2 linked regions of the Homo sapiens genome follow. The protein of the gene in region 1 purifies or fractionates together with the protein of each later gene. This does not show direct contact. Each region holds a gene or a part of one and is shown in the gene's direction. Other genes may lie near its edges.

Region 1 (4,701 bases):
TTTGTTTGAGACAGGGCCTCACTCCGTCACCAGGCTGGAGTGCAGTGGTGCGATCTCGGCTCACTGCAACCTCTGCCTCCCGGGTTCAAGTGATTCTCCCGCTTCAGCCTCCCGAGGAGCTGGGACTACAGGTGTGCGCCACCATGCCTGGTTAATTTTTGTATTTTTAGTAGAGACGGAGGTTTCGCCATGTTGGGCAGGCTGGTCTTGAACTCCTGACCTCAGGTGATCCACTTGACTCAGTCTCCCAAAGTGCTGGGATTACAGGCATGAGCCACTGCGCCTAGCCTAAGTACATTCACTTTGTCGCCACCATCACCACCATCCATCCATTACATCCTTCCAAAGCGAAATTATGCAATATTTATCTTTTTGTGTCTTGCTGATTTTCCTTGGCTTAATGTCTACAAGGTTCATCTATGTTGTAGCATGTGTCAGAATTTTATTCCTTATGAAGGTTGAATGGTATATATAACTTTTAAATTATGTCAACTTTTCTGTTTGCCAACTAGTATGTAAGTTCCACAAGGGCAATGATTTTTTATCTGTTCTCTAGTTATCCTAAGTAATTAGAATAGCGCCCAGCCCATAGCTGGAACTTATGAGGAAATGAGGAAACGAGCTTCAGATAATTTAAATAACTTCCCAAGACTAAGTTTTATAGTTAGTTGGTGGAGCTAGAATGGAATCCCTGAAGAGTGGCTCAAAGGCCTTTCTCTTTACCATGGCCTGTGCTGCCTTGCTATACTGATGCCATGAAGTTAGTCCATCCTGAGGTCTAACCCCTTTTGATGGTGTGGAACTCACATGGGGAAGGCGGACATTTGCCCACCTGGGCCTTCAACTCCTTCACTTGGAGCTGGCCTCTCCCCATCATGCCAGCTTCCCTGTGTGTGAATGGGTGTGTGTGTGTGTGTGAATGGGGTGTGTGAAGTGTGTATGTGAATGGGGGTGTGTGTGAATGGGGTGTGTGTGTGTGAATGATGTGTGTGTGAATGAGGTGTGTGTGAATGGGGTGTGTGTGTGTGTGAATGAGGTGTGTGTGTGAATGGGGTGTGTGTGTGAATGGGGTGTGTGTGTGCGGTTGATGACTATCCGTGTGAGAACACGGGAGTTGGGGCTGCTCCTTCTCTTTGCCTCCTTGCCCAGGCACCTGAGGTCTTGGACTCCTGTCCTAACTCTCAGCCCATTAGAGGCTGCTGCCTCTGGACTAGACTCAGGCTCTGACCTCACACTCCATGCCTAGGATTTCAGTCTGGGGTCCCAGTTCCCATCTGCCATTCCGGGCTTGGTCATCAGCCTCTTCCCAGAGGCCCAGGATGGGTGGATTTGGCAGGAGTATGGGGAAGGAAGGAAGAGCTTAGCTTCCTTCCCTGTGGGGACCCTGTGAGGCACAGCAGACTGGGCTGGGCCTGGTCCTGGGCTCCAGCCTCCAGCCTCCACTCACACCCTCCTCTTCCTCAGGATCATCTTCTCCACGCCCCTGGCCGTCATTGCCTACTTCCTCATCTGGTTCGTGCCCGACTTCCCACACGGCCAGACCTATTGGTACCTGCTTTTCTATTGCCTCTTTGAAACAATGGTCACGGTGAGTGTGGGTACCTCCCTTGGGTGTCTCTAGGGGCCGGGAGGAGGGCGGTCCTTGGGGCCCCCAGGGTTGGTACTGGAAGCTACATCAGTGTGTCCACCCGCCTGACCAGCCAATGACCTGTCTTCTATGCCAGTGTTTCCATGTTCCCTACTCGGCTCTCACCATGTTCATCAGCACCGAGCAGACTGAGCGGGATTCTGCCACCGCCTATCGTGAGTCTCCCCAGCCCACCTGACCCCACCCTCCAGGGACCCTCCAGCCATACTTCTTCCCTTGCGGGTCCAGCTCTTTGCTCTGCTCTAGAGTGTGGGTGTGAAACCATCTTAAAAATAACTCAATCCCCTTATTGCTCAGATGAGACCTGGAGAGGTGCATATGCGTTCAAACCAAGGTGTCACCTACCCCACTACCTCTACCCACCCTGCCTGGAGCTACCGCTGGGCTCCCACCCATTTGACCTTCCTCCCTGGGCCCACAATCCATGAGGCCCCTCCAAAACACCTCCTTTTCTCCTGCCAGGGATGACTGTGGAAGTGCTGGGCACAGTGCTGGGCACGGCGATCCAGGGACAAATCGTGGGCCAAGCAGACACGCCTTGTTTCCAGGACCTCAATAGCTCTACAGTAGCTTCACAAAGTGCCAACCATACACATGGCACCACCTCACACAGGGAAACGGTGAGGCCCTGGGCAGGGCAGGGATTTGGGGAGATAAGGAACAGTGAGGTGGTTTGTAGTCATCCTAAAGATAGTAACAGCTAGTGTTTATTAAATAAATGTTGGGCATTTGATATACATAACAATTAATGCACCCAATATACCTACTTTGCAGAAAAAGAAACTGAAGCTTAGAGAGGCTGAATAAGTTGCCCAGAGTCATAAAGTTAGTGAATTGCAGAGATTTGGGAAGATTTGAATTCTGGGCTGTCAGACTCTGCAGCCTGGTTTCTGTTTTTTTCCTTTTATTATTATTTGTAGAGACGGGGTCTTGCCAAGTTGCCCAGGCTGGTTTCAAACTCCTGGGATTACAGGTGTGAGGGCTGCACTCAACCAGCCTGGTTTCTGAGCATGTTGTGAATCTTAACTGTCCAGCCTTGGGAAGCAACAGCAGGCCCAGGATGATCCTCCCATTTCACACATGGAGACAGTACGCTCCCAGAGGGGAGGGGACTGGCCCAAGATCATTGAGTGGGGCTGCTGGAACTGGGGTGCTGGGATGAGCTCAAACTGACCATCCTTGTATGTCGCCTTCACCTCCTTATAGCAAAAGGCATACCTGCTGGCAGCGGGGGTCATTGTCTGTATCTATATAATCTGTGCTGTCATCCTGATCCTGGGCGTGCGGGAGCAGAGAGGTAAGGGGGTGCCTGGGAAGGGGTGCAGGCCTCAGCATGGACAGCTGTATCTTTCTGCCTGGCCCTCAGGCTTTGGGAGGGGTCTCTGCTCCTTCCTCACTGTCCGCTCTGGCCCCCAGAACCCTATGAAGCCCAGCAGTCTGAGCCAATCGCCTACTTCCGGGGCCTACGGCTGGTCATGAGCCACGGCCCATACATCAAACTTATTACTGGCTTCCTCTTCACCTCCTTGGCTTTCATGGTGAGTGGGTTCTGACATGCTCAGCCTGAGAAGGAGGTGTAATGGGAGCGGGGTGAGCAGAGGTCTCTGGGGCTTGGGGGATGTCTTGGGGAGGCTCAGCCCCAACATCACCTCCTTCCTTGCATTTCCTTCCCTACCTTGCTCCATGCCCAGCTGGTGGAGGGGAACTTTGTCTTGTTTTGCACCTACACCTTGGGCTTCCGCAATGAATTCCAGAATCTACTCCTGGCCATCATGGTGAGTGGGACCTGAGCAGGGGCGGGCAGCCTGGGCTGAGGTGACATAGGCTGTGGAATGGTTCTTGGAATAGGCAGAGGATGTTTCTCAGGCTGGCCCAAGGTCATGAAAGGATGAGGGAGGCTTCTCAGGGTATTTGGTTGGACCTTGCGAAGGTAGGACTGTGAAAGAAAGAGTTTGAGGTTAGATGTTTGAGTAGTGAGCACAGCAAAAGCAAGGGCGAGGACACCAGGAACTTGGCTCAGAGGTTTGAGAGGGCAGCAGACAAGGTGGGCCTGGACCAGCTCTGAGCTCCCCTGGGGAGCCGTCAAAGGTGCCTGTCATCTTCGTTGCTGCCCACATGATGTCATCTGGCTGCTCTTGGGCAGGGCTGGGAGCCACTTTGGGGTTCTGGGAAGGGCAGGAGGGGCTCTGTGGCTCTAAAGCACCTCCCTTTAACCCCCTTTGTCCATCCACAGCTCTCGGCCACTTTAACCATTCCCATCTGGCAGTGGTTCTTGACCCGGTTTGGCAAGAAGACAGCTGTATATGTTGGGATCTCAGTGAGTGGGGTTGAAGAGCAGAGCCTGGGTTGAGTTGGGATGTCTGGTGGGAACCTCCCAGCTGATTCATCTTCCTGCACCCCCTTCCCTAGTCAGCAGTGCCATTTCTCATCTTGGTGGCCCTCATGGAGAGTAACCTCATCATTACATATGCGGTAGCTGTGGCAGCTGGCATCAGTGTGGCAGCTGCCTTCTTACTACCCTGGTAGGTATATACAGGCCCCCCTCCTCGGGTATCTCCAGCCCCTAGTCCCCAGTTTTGAAGCTCCTTAGGGAGAGTTCTATGCAGTGTTCTCCCACAGGCCATTCTGTGGGTCCAGGTTAGGAGTGGGGGAGGTCTGTCCTGTACAGTTGTACAGGTAGTGAGCTTTGCAAGAACACCTAGTCAGAGTGAAAAATGGGGGCTGTAATCTGGCCTGGGCTCCACTTGCCACGCTGAGCACCTCCAGGCAGGGTTACTTCCTCTTAGAGCAAGAGGCCTTTTCTTATTCATGTGAAGGTCCCATATCCTCACTGAGCTGTGTACCCATGGTACTGCAAGCTTCCAGAGGGCCACCTCTTCTCATTAACACAGAGGCCCGTTAGGTGGGTCAGTCCTCATGGCTGTCACTACTCTGCGCAGGTCCATGCTGCCTGATGTCATTGACGACTTCCATCTGAAGCAGCCCCACTTCCATGGAACCGAGCCCATCTTCTTCTCCTTCTATGTCTTCTTCACCAAGTTTGCCTCTGGAGT
Region 2 (5,545 bases), on another chromosome or scaffold:
AGATTTAAATAAGATACAGTACGGATATAAAAGAATGAGGAGCTCTTTTTCAGTAAATTGTGTGTATTTACATGTACTGGACACTGTACTAGATATCAGGGATACAGTGAGGAGAAAAATAACTGTAGCAAACTTGCCATTCTCATTTATTGTCTAAGTTTTCTTTGGTTAGTTGGTATGAAATACAAATAGAAGTAATATGATGTTAATACTTTATTTTTAAATTTGTTTTTATTTCTTATTGCCTGTAAGCTTCTTTCTTTGTTTTTGTTAATTTGTTTAAGTAAGCATGTCTTTTTTACATTTATGTAAATGTTAAAATACTTTATGATCAATATTAGGAGTTTCTTGTTTAAATTCTGAAATAAAATTTTACTTCAAATTATTGTAAGATATGTATTTTTACACATTTCTTTTAAATGCATAAGTAAGGCTGGGTGTGGTAGCTCATGCCTGTAATCGTAGCACTTTGGGAGGCTAAGGCAGGAGGATCACTTGAGCCCAGGAAATTGAGACCAGCCAAGGCAACATAGTGGGACCCTGTCTCCACAAAAAAAAAAAAAAAAAGGGCATGGGGGTGTGCACCTGTAGTCCCAGCTACTGGGGAAGCTGAGGTGGGAGGATCACATGATCCAGGGAGGTTGAGAGTGAGGCATGATCGCACCACTGCACTCCAACCTGAGTGGCAGAGTGAGACCCTGTCTCAAAAATAAATAAATAAATAAAATAAGTGCATCTGTATACATTTCTTTTGTTTTCAGAGAATCCTTGATACGAACTGCATTCCAGTGTCTTCAGTTGGTTGTGACAGATTTTCTACCAACAATGCCTTGTACTTGCCTGCAAATAGTTGTAGATGTTGCAGGTAGCTTTGGCCTCCATAACCAAGAACTCAATATTAGTTTAACTTCAATAGGTTTATTGGTAAGTATCATTGTCCTTAGAATATAATATAATTTAGAAATCATTGTTATTCAGTTGGGAGTGAATGCTAAGCAAATATACTTTTAGCTCTTTGCAAATTGTTTATATGGCTTTTAAATTTCAAACTTACGTCTGGGTGAAGGATTAAATAACATCACTTAAATATTAATAACAAAATGTTTGAAATAATTTTCATACATTGAGCTGAAGTTTGGGTTTTACAGGGTTTGTCATGAAAGGGTTTAGTAAACAATAGTATATACAAGGGAAATCTTCAGTTGACTTTTATGTGAACCAATTACATTAGCCCCTGACAAGAAAATCAGCTTGTACTTTGAAGCCTTGAAGCCAAGCATTGACTTTTTATCTTTAGCCATGAAAGTCCTACATGACATCTTCAAGTACAAGGCTGTTTCAGGCTGGGCATGGTAGCTGATGCCTGTAATCCCAGCACTTTGGGAGGCTGAGGTGGGAGGATTGCTGAGGCCAGGAGTTTGAGACCAGGCTGGGCAATAAAATGAGACTCCCATCTCTACTAAAAATTAGCTGTGTATGGTGGTGCACACCTGTAGTCTCAGCTACATGGGAGGCTGGGATGGGAGGATTGCTTGAGCCCAGGAATTGGAGGCTGCAGTGAGCTATGATCACAGCACTGCACTCCAGCCTTGGCAACAGACCCAGACCTTGTCTCTGTAAAAAAAAATGATAATAATAAAAAGGCTGTTTTGTCTACATTGAAAATCTGTTGGTCAGTGTAGCCACCTTCATCGGTGATCTTAGCTAGATCTGGATAACTTGCTACAGGTTCTACATCAGCACTTGCTGCTTCACCTTGTACTTGTAGGTTATGGTGATAACGTCTTTTCTTAAACCTCATGAACTAGCCCCTGCTAGCTTCAGACTTTTCTTCTGCAGCTTCCTCACCTTGCTCAGCTTTTATAGAATTGAGGAGAATTAGGGTCTTTCTCTGGATTAGGCGTTGGCTTAAGGGAATCTTGTAGCTGGTTTGACCTTCTATCCAGACAGCTGAAAGTTTGTTGATACCATCAATAAGCCTGCTGTACTTTCTTCTTTCTTTCTTTTTTTTTTTTTTTTTTTTTTTTTCTGAGACGGAGTCTTGCGCTTGTTACCCAGGCTGAAGTGCAGTGGCATGATCTTGGCTCACTGCAACCTCTGCCTCCTGGGTTCAAGTGATTCTCCTGCCTCAGCCTCCCATGTAGCTGGAATTATAGGCGCCCGCCATGATGTACTTTCTTATAGTTTGTTTGTTCTTTGGAGTAGCACTTTTCGTTTCCTTCAAGAACTTATCCTGTGCATTCACAACTTGGCTCACTGGCACAAGAGGCCCAGGTTTTGGCCTGTCTTGATTTTCGACATGCCTTCCTCACTAAGCTTAATTATTTCTAGCTTTTGATTGAAAGTGAGACAAATGCGACTCTTCCTTTTACTTGAACACTTACAGGTCATTGTAGGGTTATTAATTGGCCTAATTTCACTGTTGTTGTATCTCAAGAAATAGGGAGGCCTGAGAAGAAGTAAAAAGATGAGGAAACAACCTGACGATGAAACAGTCAGAAAACTCACATTAAGTTTGCCATCTTACATAGGTGCGGCTCATGCACCCCAAAATAGTTGCAATAGTCACATCAAAGATCACGGATCATAGATCACCATAACAGACATAGTAATAATTAAAAAGTTTGAAATATTACAAGTATTACTAAAATGTGGCACAGAGACACAAAGTGATCACATGCTGCTGGAAAAAAACGGTACCAACAGACTTGTTCAATGCAGGGTTGCCACAAACCTTTATAAATTGCAATTTATAAAAATTACAATTATCTGTGAAGCACAACAAAGAGAAGTGCAATAAAACAAGGCATCTCTGTAATGAAATCTTAGAGAATTGTTAACATTACATGAAATAAACATGCACAGAATTGTTTTCAACATATATTTTAAGGCAATTATTTAGAATCTTTTAAATGTATATTAAAACTCAGAAGTTTTATAAATTTGAACTTTAAATTTTCCTCACAAGCTAGATAAGTTACTACATTCATCTCTTCCTACGTTCAGCTCTTAATATTTGTGGCTTCTGCATCTGTAGATTCAACCAACTATAAATAGAAAATTTTTTTTTAAAACAAGATAGTTGTATCTGTACTGAACATGTACAGGCTTTCTTGTCAATATTACCTAAATACAGTATAACTAGTTACATAGCATTTACCTTATGTTAGGTATTAAAAGTTACCTAGTATTATTCAAAGTATACAGGAGGATGTGTGTAGATTATATTCAAATACTACACCATTTTATATAACAGACTTGAGGATTTGTGGATTTGGGTATGCAGTGGGAGGTCCTGAAACCAATCCCCCACGGATACCGAGGGACAACTGTATTTTACTATTACTATTATTTTTCCCATTTTTACATGGGAAAAAATGTAAGCATGTTGCATATATGATTGCAAGTGGGTGGCTAGTGCAACATTGCTTAAATTACTGCTGGATAGCACCTCCTTTATTTTACATTTATGTTCACAGTACTGGATTCTCTACATTTTAACCATTGGCATAATTATCATTAATATAAGATATGTTTGGAAACAGTAATTGCTCGTGTATGAAATTACAAACTTATTAAACAATATTAAGGAATTGTTAACATTGTTAGGGTGATAATGATATTATAGTTTTTTTTTATAGTTAACAGTTGTTATATTTAGGTGGTAGATACATCAATATGTTCAAGTTCCTTATACTATTCTTGGTTTTTTGTATGTTCTTGACATTTTTTATAATAAAAAAGTAAAAAAAAAAAAGTTAGCTCAAGATTGTTTCCCCACTTTCTCCTGAAATAATGTAGAGACACTGACAGAAGAAGAGATGTTTTCATTGAATCTATTCTACTAGGAAAGAGATTTTTGAAGTAATGTTTTTAAAGTTTTACTCTGAAAGGTAAAACAGCCACATGTTGCATATTTATGTGTTTAAAACAAAACCTTGGATGAACTAATATTTTTCTACTTTGCTTTTTAGTGGAATATTTCAGATTATTTTTTCCAAAGAGGGGAAACTATTGAAAAAGAACTAAATAAGGAAGAGGCAGCACAGCAAAAGCAGGCAGAAGAGAAAGGAGTTGTTTTAAATCGGCCATTCCACCCTGCACCGCCATTTGATTGCTTGTGGTTATGTCTTTATGCAAAATTGGGTGAACTATGTGTGGATCCCCGTCCTGCTGTCAGGAAGAGTGCAGGGCAAACTCTGTTTTCTACAATTGGTGCGCATGGAACTTTATTACAGCATTCAACCTGGCACACTGTTATCTGGAAGGTATTGTAAAATAGATTGGACTATCAGCTTTTAATGAGTCATGCTTATATATTAATACTTTTTCAGTTAAACTTATTTCTTTTAATTTTTAAAGAATTTCCATGCATTTGTGTATTTGACAAAACAGGAAATAACTGTGTCATATTGTAAATTGTACCTCATAAAGAGCAAATTAAATATTAACAGCCTTATCTCTGTTTCTGTCTTCATCTCTTATTATTATATCTCTCGTGATTTCTGCCTTTGCCTTTCTGTCTCCTTTTTTTCCCCCAGTTTTCCCAAATGGTAAAAACCAGGAGTTACTAAACAACAAAGGGTAATCAATCCCTTACCATAGAGTAGAAAGCTTTTGGGGTTTTTGTTTGTTTTACTTTTGAGGTCTACTTATAGATATGTAATTTAAATATAATCAAAAGAGAATTTTATTAACAGATGAATATCAATAGCAATGAAGTTTATTTGTAGACTCACCAAACAAAAGTAACCTCCAAATGGTATATTGTACATGTAATGTTTATTCATTAAATTACAATTTCATTTTTTTCTTCTTTTGAAACTTTCTAATAAAATCAGCAGTTTATTAGTGATCATTCCCTCTTTGCTAAAAGTCTCATCTTTTTTGTTCCATCTGTTCCATTATAATAAAATTCTGTTTATAATCCTTTCACTTGCTTTTGTGAGTTTTTCAAATTAATAGACCCCAAAATGTCTTCTTAAAAAATTAATGGGCTGGGCATGGTGACTGACACCTGTAATCCCAGTACTTTAGGAGGCTGAGGCAGCAGGATCACCTGAGGTCAGGGGTTCAAGACCAACCTGGCCAATATGGTGAAACCCCATATCTATTATAGTAAAAGCCCTCTTTCCTTCTGTCTTGTATTTCAGTTCCATCCCATAGTTCCTCCTCAGATCACAAACATGCTTAATTCTCCCATACAGTTTGTTTTTAATCTAATACTTTTCTGATTCTAATTTTCCTTTCAAGCAACTTCATTTTTTATCTTCTTGCTGCCTAATTCTTAATGATTTTTTTCTCACACACCTTGCATTGTCTTATTTTCTGTAATTGATTTCCAGACTATTCTACTTCAGTCTCTTAAACATTAGAGAATAACAGAATCACCTTAAAGACTTGTTAAAGCACAGATTTTTGAGCCACTATTGTCAGCCCTCCCTGAACTTGAGTTTCTGATTATTTTGGCCTGGAGTGAGTCCTGAGAATTTGAATTTCTATCAAGTTCCTGGGTGAAGCTTGATGCTGCTGGTTAGTTCAGAGA

What was found. Proteins that work in one complex are often made in the same cells at the same time.
Region 2: the proteins of MFSD2A (region 1) and MON2 purify together in Homo sapiens (affinity purification with mass spectrometry; one large-scale study listed by BioGRID and IntAct). This does not show direct contact.

What each region holds. Positions count from the first base shown.
Region 1 is NC_000001.11:39,963,747-39,968,447, forward strand, and holds part of MFSD2A (sodium-dependent lysophosphatidylcholine symporter 1), read left to right. Parts: intron 1-1,464; coding exon 1,465-1,588; intron 1,589-1,724; coding exon 1,725-1,803; intron 1,804-2,110; coding exon 2,111-2,268; intron 2,269-2,854; coding exon 2,855-2,945; intron 2,946-3,064; coding exon 3,065-3,186; intron 3,187-3,339; coding exon 3,340-3,423; intron 3,424-3,881; coding exon 3,882-3,965; intron 3,966-4,057; coding exon 4,058-4,170; intron 4,171-4,587; coding exon 4,588-4,701. UniProt on the Homo sapiens protein: Sodium-dependent lysophosphatidylcholine (LPC) symporter, which plays an essential role for blood-brain barrier formation and function. Specifically expressed in endothelium of the blood-brain barrier of micro-vessels and transports LPC into the brain.
Region 2 is NC_000012.12:62,548,907-62,554,451, forward strand, and holds part of MON2 (protein MON2 homolog), read left to right. Parts: intron 1-761; coding exon 762-924; intron 925-3,974; coding exon 3,975-4,268; intron 4,269-5,545. UniProt on the Homo sapiens protein: Plays a role in regulating membrane trafficking of cargo proteins. Together with ATP9A and DOP1B, regulates SNX3 retromer-mediated endosomal sorting of WLS away from lysosomal degradation.